Homo sapiens: one gene and its partners. The protein of the gene in region 2 interacts with the protein of the main gene of each other region in a pairwise test. Each region holds a gene or a part of one and is shown on either strand. Other genes may lie near its edges. The genes, in order: CCDC187, KHDRBS3 and MARK4.

Evidence for each region.
Region 1: the proteins of KHDRBS3 (region 2) and CCDC187 interact in a two-hybrid assay, tested with the Homo sapiens proteins (one large-scale study listed by BioGRID).
Region 3: the proteins of KHDRBS3 (region 2) and MARK4 interact in a two-hybrid assay, tested with the Homo sapiens proteins (one large-scale study listed by BioGRID).

Annotation. Positions count from the first base shown.
Region 1 is NC_000009.12:136,293,946-136,297,595, reverse strand, and holds part of CCDC187 (coiled-coil domain-containing protein 187), read left to right. Parts: intron 1-3,650.
Region 2 is NC_000008.11:135,463,849-135,467,498, forward strand, and holds part of KHDRBS3 (KH domain-containing, RNA-binding, signal transduction-associated protein 3), read left to right. Parts: exon of another isoform or gene 1-40; coding exon of another isoform or gene 41-128; intron 129-3,650. UniProt on the Homo sapiens protein: RNA-binding protein that plays a role in the regulation of alternative splicing and influences mRNA splice site selection and exon inclusion. Binds preferentially to the 5'-[AU]UAAA-3' motif in vitro.
Region 3 is NC_000019.10:45,299,713-45,303,362, forward strand, and holds part of MARK4 (MAP/microtubule affinity-regulating kinase 4), read left to right. Parts: intron 1-98; coding exon 99-143; intron 144-2,661; coding exon 2,662-2,998; 3' UTR 2,999-3,650. UniProt on the Homo sapiens protein: Serine/threonine-protein kinase. Phosphorylates the microtubule-associated protein MAPT/TAU. Also phosphorylates the microtubule-associated proteins MAP2 and MAP4.

The DNA of each region.
Region 1 (3,650 bases), on a different chromosome or scaffold from region 2:
GTACACAGGGTTCTGCAGGGCACCTGGGATCGGCAGGCCCGGCTGGAGCGTCAGGGCTGGTGTCCCAGGCAACTGGTGACCTTGGCCACCACTGGAGCAGCAGGTGGTTCCTGTCCGGGCAGGGGCGTGTCCCTTGAGACAAAGTGAAAGTCCACCAAACACCAGGCACTATTGTCCTCTCAACACCCAGAGACTGGGCGAGTCTAAGAAAACAGAGCTGTTCAACCACACTGTAGCATGCACTGGCAGCTCACGGTACCCGCAGCTCACACCACCTGCAGCTCACACCACCCGCAGCTCACACCACCCGCAGCTCACGGCACCCGTAGCTCAGGGCACCTACACCCCATGGCACCCGCAGCTCAGGACACCCACAGCCCATGGCACCCGCAACTCACGGCACCCACAGCCTACGCCACCCACAGCTCACGCCACCTGCAGCTCACGCCACCTGCAGCTCACGGCTCTTCAGAGCAGTAACAGATACTGGCATGTGTGCACATGCAGTGGGCAGCTCAGGGCACGCTTGGCCGAGGGAGCCGTGCTTGCTTTCTTTGTCACACGTTCACATTTAGTGAGCAAGCCCAGGGCATCTCCTTCCACCTGCACACTTGGGGGTGGGAGAGGGTCTTCCGCAGACCCCACTCCCTCCAGTAGCTTGGGGACTTTGTGCAGGCACAGGGGGTGTGTGAGTCAGCCATGTGCTTGCATTACGATTAATTTCATGCGTGTTTCCCGGAGAGTCCAGTCAGGTAATCCTGTGGGTGGATCCCAGTGGTCACAGAGGAATTTCTGATCCAGGCATCTCCCTGCTGAGGACTGGGCAGAGGTGTCAGTGCCCTGCAGAGACCCAGCGGCCCAGCCTGGGCATGGGTTTCAGAGCTTGCAGGGCGAACCTGACAGCGGCCCCTGCCCTTGAGCGGGTGGGTGGCAGGCAGAGTCCCTCTGGGGCTTCCTTCTGGGGCGTCTTCGAGGTCAGGGGAGTGGCCAGTGCCCGCACTCTGTGAGCTCACTGCAGCCTCCTGGTTCCCCGCCAAGGTTGGCAGTCTTGCTCCCATTTTGTAGATGAGGCAACCGAGGTTCACAGAGTTTCCACAGCCTGCCCGGGGCTGCACAGAGGCAGAGCCTCCCACCCGTCCAGCCCAAGGCCGGTGCTCCTAACCTGGAAGCCCAGCCGTGTGCACCTGGGGCCACGCCTGGGCAGCTTGTCGAGGCCACCCTCCAGGCGTGGATTCTGGGGCCACCGAACCACAGCGTTTTGGAGACACCAGCAAGAGCCCCCAGGTGGAGTGAACGCCTGAGATTGGCTTTGTGGGACCCTCACTCCAAGTGTGAGCAGTGCCAGCTCGCTGGCCACTCCTGTAATGCTCCATGCCTCAGTTTCTCCACACTGCGTGCAATCACAGCCCTGGGGCCGTGGGGAGGGGCACTGCGTGGCGTGCGTTCTGTCCGTGCCCAGGTGCCTAAGCATCTGTCCCGTGTCATCAGTTGCCGGCCCCTCTGCTCCTAGGCAGAGCAGCAGCTTCCAGCCGAGAGTAAACGCCTCTGTGCCCATACCCAGAGAGGACACGCGGGTGAGGTGGGAGCTCAGCGGGGCTGCGGGGCCACCGTGTGCATTCAGCGGGGCCAGAGGCCGAGCAGAAGGGGACTGCGATGTAGGGACCCGGGCACCCAGAAGGTTCCGGAAGGCCGTGGAAACATGCGTACAATATAACAATTTTCTGCATGATCACCCCCTCCCTCCCCCAGGTCTTTGGTTTGTTTTATTTTAATGGCTCTGTTGAAAAATGACCTGCTTTCTGCCTGACACTGGGTCAGAGGGCATGCCACCGGCCGCATTCATCATCGTAAACACCGTGTCACCCTGACAGTGTTGACCATTAGTTTCTGTCAGTGACGAAGTCACAGCTGGGCTAAGGAGAGATGAGTTTCGGTTCAGAGGTCAGAGCCACAGGACTTGGGAATTGGATGAATTAGAAATTTGCTGTAGTTAACAAAAAATTAAATCACAATAGTTATAAAATATTCATCCATCCGGGCCAAAGGAAAATGAAGCCTGATATTTAATTTCAGATTATATCACCTCACTTTGCATTTTTTATCATAGATTAGGTCGGCCCCAGAACTTTGACAGGGCACTTGGGGACTTCATCCATTTCCACAGATTAAAAATCCTCTCGTAAAAAAATTAATTGCCATTAAACTGCTCAGCGGAAGAAAAAATGTGCCCATCAGGACCCATTTATCGAGCGGGACCCTCTGGCGGGCTAATGGGGAAGTGAGTGGCCAGCAATGGAGGGGCCGGGCGGGCAGGCGGGCAGCCCCTCCCCAGGCGGGTCCCTGGCCCAGCAACCCAGCGAGGGAGAGCAGCTGTAGGGACTAGGATGGAGAAACCCCACCGGGGCTCCCCTCCACGCTGGGTCCCCCCCGAAACCCAGCTGTGACCAGTTGGGTCACGCTGGCCTCAACTCCGGCCTTTGACACCACCCTGAGCCAGTGGAATCCTGACCCTCTTCCAGGCCTAACTCCTGCAATGATCGTGACTGCCCTTTCATTCTTGTGGCCCTATGGGAGGTGCTGTGAGATAGGCACCCCATTTTACAGATGGGGAAACTGAGGCATGGATAAGTGAAACACTTGCCTGAGGCCCATGGCTGGTGAGTGGCAGAGCCAGACTTAAACCCAGGTCTGAGAATCCTGAGACCACGCCCTAAACCTTCCTCTACCTTGGGGTCCTGTCCTAGACAGTGTATGGCCTTAAGGGGTCCTGCCCTAAAGTGGGTGTGGGGCATGGCCTGGGGTCCTGTCCTGGAGAGGCCGTGGCCATGGGAAGCCTGTCCTTGGGGACGTGGCTTTGGGAGGGCATGGCCTGGTGGGTGCAACCATGTAGCCCATTCACCTTCCTGGAGAGGTAGCTTCAGGCCTGTGGCTGATGGCCAGGGGTCAGGGCAGTGTGAGGAGGGTGCCGTGTCTGGGGGGTGCTAGGGAAGTCCCTGACTCAGTCCGGGAGCCTGCCCCTGGGTGCTCAGCTCTCTGGATGGTCCCTGCCCAAGGCACTCTCATTTGGCAGAAAGTCCCCCTTCATGGGGGCCAGGGCCAGCCCTGGCTGAGACTCCACAGTGGTCTTGACCCCAGGCCACGGGGTGGAGCTGCCCTGGGCTGGGCCTAAGGAAGGGGCATAGGGGCCAGGGACCCTTGGCATGTGTGGTGTTGGCCCTGCAGAGCCAGGTGGAATAAGCAGTGTGTGTGAGTGAATGTGTGTGTGAGAGCACGTGAGGGCATGTGTATATGAGCGTGTGAGAGTGAGAGCACATGTGAGGGCGTGTGTATATGAGCGCGTGAGAGTGTGAGACCACGTGAGGGCGTGTGTATATGAGCGTGTGAGTGTGTGTGAGAGCACATGTGAGGGCGTGTGTATATGAGCGTGTGAGTGAATGTGTGTGTGAGAGCATGTGAGGGCGTGTGTATGAGTGTGAGAGTGTGTGAGTGTGAGCACTTGAGGGCGTGTGTATATGAGCGTGTGAGTGTGTGAGAGCACATGTGAGGGCGTGTGTATATGAGTGTGTGTGTGAGAGCATGTGAGGGCGTGTGTATATGAGTGTGAGTGTGTGTGTGAGAGCATGTGAGGGCATGTGTATATGAGCATGTGT
Region 2 (3,650 bases):
TACCAAAACAATAGAAGGAGAGTGTTCCTTGGCGTTGGGGATGATGATTATAAAAGCCACCAATTTGAGGCTCTTCCGTGCCAGCTGCTTTCTGTGCATTCTCTCCCATCCCCGCAAGATCTTGCAAGGTAGGAGGTTTTATTCCCTGCGTGCCTCCTTTATTTTTTTCAAATGAGGCCTCTAAGGCTCAAAAACACTAAGTAACTTGCCCAGTCAAGGTACACAGCTTATAAGTAGTCAGGCTGAAATTTTAAACCAAGTCTGCAGTATTTTGTTAAGATACTTTAAGAAAAGAGGTAAAAGGACAGAACTCAACATTGTTGTTTTTAAATAAATGTTTCATTATAGCAGAAGCCTCTTAGGAATTTCCATTGGTGATGAATTTTTAAAAGGGGTTACTGAAAATGTGTTTTACCAAAAAGGCAAGCTCACTTTTTTTTCTCCTGTGCTCTCCGGCAGTCTTCAGTAGGCATTCAAAGTAAGGATTTTTAAATATGTATATATTTCAGTGACCAAAAAGAAAATAGAAAAATATTCCATATAGAAAGCCAGTGAAATTCTTGCTGAAGTTCTGTCTCTTGAGGGAGCCTCCTAGAGGTGCAGTGCTCTTTGTATTTTAATACTTTGCTTATCACAAAAACAGTCGAGAGTATGATATCAGGGATTTATAGTCAGTTTATGGTATATTTGTGAATTCTTCATTCTCTAAAAATAGGTTCACAAAAGAAAAAAAAGTATTCCCACAGATAATGCTTTTGGCTTTCTGGAAGGGGGGAATATGTTTAAATATACTTGCCCTGCAGTTGCTAATGATAGTAGCTACCATTTATCAAGAGCCTTTTCTGGTTTACGTGCTTTATGTATGTTATTTCATTGAATTAGTTTAACAGTCTTAAAAGAGTAAGTCATTTTACCTTATTTTATAGATGAGAAAACCGAGGTCAGGAAGGTCACATAATTTGCCTAAGAACACATAGCTAGTAACTGGTGAATCAGGATTCAGATCTTTGTCTGCCCAACACTATGACACTATGTAGGGCACCTGTTAGCATCAGATAGAGGTGGAAGCTTTGAGTATGTCTTGTTTTTCATGTTTTACTTTTGTGGGGAATTTGGATTATGCAGCTCTTCAAATTACATGCCTAGTATTGGACTGGGTGAGCAGGGCAGTTGCGTACCATACAGAGGGCACACAGGGGCATGGCAAAACGGCATAGGAACTTTCTGACCAGTGGCAACATCTGGTAGGTAGCATTTACTTGGGAAACAGTGTTAACTCAACAAGGAATGAGCTGGTGCAGAAAGAGCCATGTGATTACAGGTGACAGCTTTCTAGTCTGTAATCCCCTGCAAGTTACTTTATTTCTCAGAGCCTCAGTTTCCCCATCTGTGAAATTGGGGACCTTATGCCTTCTTTGTAGGGTTGCTGTTTTAGACGTAAGTACAGTGTCTAACACATAGTAGGTGCTTAATAAACGTTACCTGCAATTTTTATAAAATGTTGTAAGACAGATGTGTGAGTATCGACATCACTTTTCAGATATAATGTATATAATACAAATTCAATACATAAATCATCTACTTTCATTTCTTAGGGTAATTTTATGTTGTTAGAATTATTTTAGTTTTCCAATCCAGGAAATATTGAAGGAGAAATTCAGTCTTTAGGAAGCTTCTTTCATTAATATCATGCACAAAATTAGCAGCAGCTCTGATTGATTTTTATTATGCTATTCAAGACACAGCACCTGAAGCTTAAATTAACAAATGAAGCTTCCATAAACAGTTTTAAGACTGCATATCTTAAAACATGTCTGGACACCCAGCAGCCTCTTTCCACAAGCACAAGATACCTTACTCTGAATTGGTAAGCTGTAAATTTCCATAATTTTTTACATTTCCATAATTTTTCGTCAATCAGCCCCTGCTGCTATTTTAAGAATTTTAAAAGGTGCTCCTAGCATATTATTGATGTTCTTCGTTGATATGATAAAGGGCAAGAGTATGTGAGGGCACCCTTTTAAATGTCTGTTTTCGATATATATCTTACACTTGGGGTCACTGTTGATTCGTGCTCCCATGGGAGAAAATATAGAAATTATGATGAAGATAAGGGGCAGTTTTCATTTTCAACATTTTTCCTTGTTCTTTCTCTGCTTCAATGTTTGTGCCGTTTGTGCTCTGCTTTTCTTCCACTAGATGGCGCTCCACATAGCTAGGTTACCTTCTTTCTTTCGCATTGGTAGCTATTTCTGAACTGAGTCTTGATCAATAAACGTGCATTGCTTTTGATTTTCATGCATTGGTATTTTTCATATTATTGATCTCTTAAGAGGCATACTTGCTAATCAATATTTGCAGAAAGCCATGCCTTTTTTTGTAGCCACCATTGCTCAAGCGCCTGAGGTATGCCTGGCACTGTAGCTAGGTTCTTCACACATTTCTTCATTTAATCCATGACTTTCACGTGAATTTAGTTTTGTTGTTCTCATTTTACAGGTAAGAAGTGGAGGTTAGAGGGATTTATAACTTGTTCGAGGTCACAAAGCTAACTTATATTATAGGGATTAGTGTGCCCTAAAGAAAAGTATACTCCAAAAACATTAAATTGAAAGCTTTTGTCAAATAACTTGTTAGGATAGTCTGACTTACGGTTACTGGCCATGGTAATATGTTTATTTTGGGGGAAAATTATACTCCTCACAGTTAATTTGCTTTGGAATATATAAATCAAATTCCCAAATCTGATTTGTATAAGAAAGCACACAACAGTAACAAAAGATTTGTCAGTTGGTGTGCAAATTTCTGCTTCCTCTTGCCTTCTGTTTACTGACTTGAGTGGGCTGAGACTTGATGAGTACTAGCTATAAAATGTGGGAGGAATTTTGGACAAAGCCAGGCTTCCTGTTTTAGTAACTTTTAGCAGGGCTGAATGCTGTTAACAAGTCCCCAGGACTTAAAAAATTTATCCTTTCATTTTATTCATTTATTCGACACATATTTGTTGAATTGCTGAGTTGACCTGTGTGTTCTGGACCATGACTTTACCTCACTGAGCCTCTATTCCCTCATCTGCACATGGCAGGCAGGATGCCACCTCAGTGGTTGTCATACATTTTAAAATAACTAAAAGAGTATAATTGGATTGTTTGTAACAGAAAGGATAAATGCTTGAGGTGAGGGATACCCATTTCCCTGATGTGGTTATTATGCATTGCATGCCTGTATCAGAATATCTCATGTACCCCATAAACATGTACACCTACTGTGTACCCCCACAATTAAAAATAAAAATTAAACAAGATTAAATGACAGTGGTTTCGTATTTGTTTAATTTCACTATAAATTTTTAACATAGAATATATTCGTTGTATCTAAGATGAGATTATTACACATATATTTCTGTTCCTCATATATTATCTTTTACAAATGAATACTTAAATAACTTGACATGTATTTATTAAAAATAAGGGCCTTCCCTTTCATAGCTGTCATACAATGATCCAAATTAGGAAGTTTAACAACCACACAGTGCTGTTATCTCATCTACAGTTCACATGCTGATGGCACCAGTTGTTCTGGTTTTGTCTTTTACAGGACCCAAGTCAAGATCACACATTTCGTGTAGTGTCAGGCCTCTTTAGGGTTTC
Region 3 (3,650 bases), on a different chromosome or scaffold from region 2:
TTGAGGCAGGGGCTGCTTGGAGTCCCAGAGGCAGTGGGTTGCGGGAGGTGGGTTCCCTATGTCCAGATTAGACACTCTGTCCCCCTCCCCTCCCCTAGGGTCGCAGACGAACCTGAGAGAATCGGGGGACCTGAGGTCACAAGGTGAGTGCTTGGGCCTACCCCTGACTGCCACTTCCCCTCTCCTGCCTCAGCACCTCCCGACACTTACCCCAGGGCATTAGATGGGGCCCCAGTCTCATCCTGCAAGGCCAACTTCCTGAAATGCCCTGTGGCCCCAGCCTTCTCTGCCAGCTCCTCTCATTCCCACCCAACCCCAAGCACCTTCCCTTGATCATCTTAAACTTCAGCCTCCGGCTGGGTGCCATGGCCCAAGCCTGTAATCCCAGCACTTTGGGAGTCCAAGGGAGGCAGATCACCTGAGGTCGGGAGTTTGAGACCAGCCTAAGATGGAGAAACCCCGTCGTTACTAAAAATACAAAAATTAGCCGGGCGTAGTGGCGCATGCCTGTAATCCCAACTACTCGGGAGGCTGAGGCAGGAGAATCGCTTGAACCCGGGAGGCAGAGGTTGCGGTGAGCTGGATTGTGCCATCGCACTCCAGCCTGGGTAGCAAGAGTGAAACTCCGTCTGAAAAAAAAAAAAAAAAAAAAAAAAAAGCCTCATCCCATCCACAACTCAACTCCTCTTCTGGTCAATGCCCCCACCTCCTTTTGCCTCTCATCCAGTCATGGCACAATGTTTGCTGGCAGCTCAGGGCCAGCAGGAGGCAAACATCTGTACGGACCCAGATCATGAAGATTTTAGGCTTTGAGGGCCAGGCACCCTGTGTCACGCCTGTTCAGTTGTGCCATTGTAGTGCAAAAGCAGTCATATTCAACACAAAACAAATGGGTATGGCAGTGTTCCAATGAAACTTTATTTACAAAAGCAGACAGCACTGGAGTTTGCCAAGCCCTGGTTTTGTCTGAGTTCCCGGTTTAGAGACCCAAGTGGAAACCGGAGCCTTCCCAGCAGCTGCAACAAACTGCCAGGGCTGACTCTCATTGGTTGGGACTTGGTCACATGCTCATTCCTAAACCAATGCCTGCAGCCAGAGAGGAGAAGTACTCTGGTTGGTCAGACCTGGTCATGTGGTCACCCTTGACCCAAGCACAGTGGCCGGGAAGTAGAATGCTATCATTGGCAGAGCTGAGTCGTGCTCACCCAAGCTGAGGGGCGGCCCCACCGGAACAAGGGAGGCTAGTCCTGGGATGCTCATGTAGAGCAGCACTCTCGTACTTCAGGCGGGACGTTTCTTTGTTGTGCAGGGCCCTCTTGCACATTGGAGAATGTTTTTCATTCCTGACCTACCCCATCCCCAACCTAGTCAGTGCCAGCAGTGCTCCCATCCTAAGACATGTGACAATCAAAAAGCCCCCAGAGGCCGAGCACAGTGGCTTATGCCTGTAATTCCAACAACTCAGGAGGCCAAGGCAGGAGGATCACTTGAGCCCAGGAGGTCGAGGCTGCAGTGAGCTGTGATTGCACTACTGCATTGCAAGACCCTGTCTCAAAAAAACTAAGAAGTGGCCGGGCACTGTGGCTCTCGCCTGTAATCCCAGCACTTTGGGAGGCCAAGGCAGGTGGATCACCTGAGGCCGGGAGTTTAAGACCTGCCTGCCCAACATGGTGAGACTCCGTCTCTACTAAAAATACAAAAATTAGCTGGCCGTGGTGCCTGTTCTCCCAGCTACTTGGGAAGCTGAGGCAGGAGAATTGCTTGAACCCGGGAAGCAGAGGTTGCAGTGGGCCAAGATTGTGTCATTGCCTTCCAGCCTGGGCGACAAGAGCGAAACTCTGTCTCAAAAAAAAAAAAAAAAAAAAAAGCCGGGCGCAGTGGCTCACACCTGTAATCCCAGCACTTTGGGAGGTCGAGGCGGGCAGATCACAAGGTCAGGAGATCGAGACCATCCTGGCTGACACGGTGAAACCGTGTCTCTACTAAAAATACAAAAATTAGCTGGGGCCAGGCGTGGTGGCGCGTGCCTGTAATCCCAACTACTCAGGAGGCTATGGCAGGAGAATCGCTTCAACCCAGGAGGCGGAGGTTGTGGTGAGCCGAGATCGTTCCATTGCACTCCAGCCTGGGTAACAAGAGCAAAACTCCGTCTCAAAAAAAAAAAAAAAAAGAAAAGGAAAAAGAAATTTCTCATTCAAACATTCAAACCATGTGGCCAAGCCAGGCTGGTAAGGCCACTGTGATCTATGCGGTCATTCAGGTCCCCAGGTTATTGCATCCCGATTCCCTGGAGCCCTTGTCATCTTCACAGTTGAGGCTGGCCTGTGCCACTGCTAAGTCCAGCTCCTGGGAGATGTGGGACAGGAGAGCCTGGCACATGCAGGTTCTTTGAAGGAACTGATGTGGATGGCACATCTCACTTCTGCTCATGTCCCAGAATTTACAGACAAGGTCACACCTGGTTGCAAGGGAGGCTGGAAAGTGTGGTCTCTAGCTGGGCAGCTCTGTATCCAGTTGAAACTGTCGCTGGGGTAACAGGGGAAGATGTTTTTTGAGGGGATGGCTAGGAATGTGTCCCGAATTGGGAAGAGTTGTCCCTTCAGCCCTCCACCACATTCCTCTTCGCTCCCATCTCTGACCCCTGACATCTTCTCGCCTCAGTTGCCATCTACCTTGGGATCAAACGGAAACCGCCCCCCGGCTGCTCCGATTCCCCTGGAGTGTGAAGCTGACCAGCTCGCGCCCTCCTGAGGCCCTGATGGCAGCTCTGCGCCAGGCCACAGCAGCCGCCCGCTGCCGCTGCCGCCAGCCACAGCCGTTCCTGCTGGCCTGCCTGCACGGGGGTGCGGGCGGGCCCGAGCCCCTGTCCCACTTCGAAGTGGAGGTCTGCCAGCTGCCCCGGCCAGGCTTGCGGGGAGTTCTCTTCCGCCGTGTGGCGGGCACCGCCCTGGCCTTCCGCACCCTCGTCACCCGCATCTCCAACGACCTCGAGCTCTGAGCCACCACGGTCCCAGGGCCCTTACTCTTCCTCTCCCTTGTCGCCTTCACTTCTACAGGAGGGGAAGGGGCCAGGGAGGGGATTCTCCCTTTATCATCACCTCAGTTTCCCTGAATTATATTTGGGGGCAAAGATTGTCCCCTCTGCTGTTCTCTGGGGCCGCTCAGCACAGAAGAAGGATGAGGGGGCTCAGCGGGGGGAGCTGGCACCTTCCTGGAGCCTCCAGCCAGTCCTGTCCTCCCTCGCCCTACCAAGAGGGCACCTGAGGAGACTTTGGGGACAGGGCAGGGGCAGGGAGGGAAACTGAGGAAATCTTCCATTCCTCCCAACAGCTCAAAATTAGGCCTTGGGCAGGGGCAGGGAGAGCTGCTGAGCCTAAAGACTGGAGAATCTGGGGGACTGGGAGTGGGGGTCAGAGAGGCAGATTCCTTCCCCTCCCGTCCCCTCACGCTCAAACCCCCACTTCCTGCCCCAGGCTGGCGCGGGGCACTTTGTACAAATCCTTGTAAATACCCCACACCCTCCCCTCTGCAAAGGTCTCTTGAGGAGCTGCCGCTGTCACCTACGGTTTTTAAGTTATTACACCCCGACCCTCCTCCTGTCAGCCCCCTCACCTGCAGCCTGTTGCCCAATAAATTTAAGAGAGTCCCCC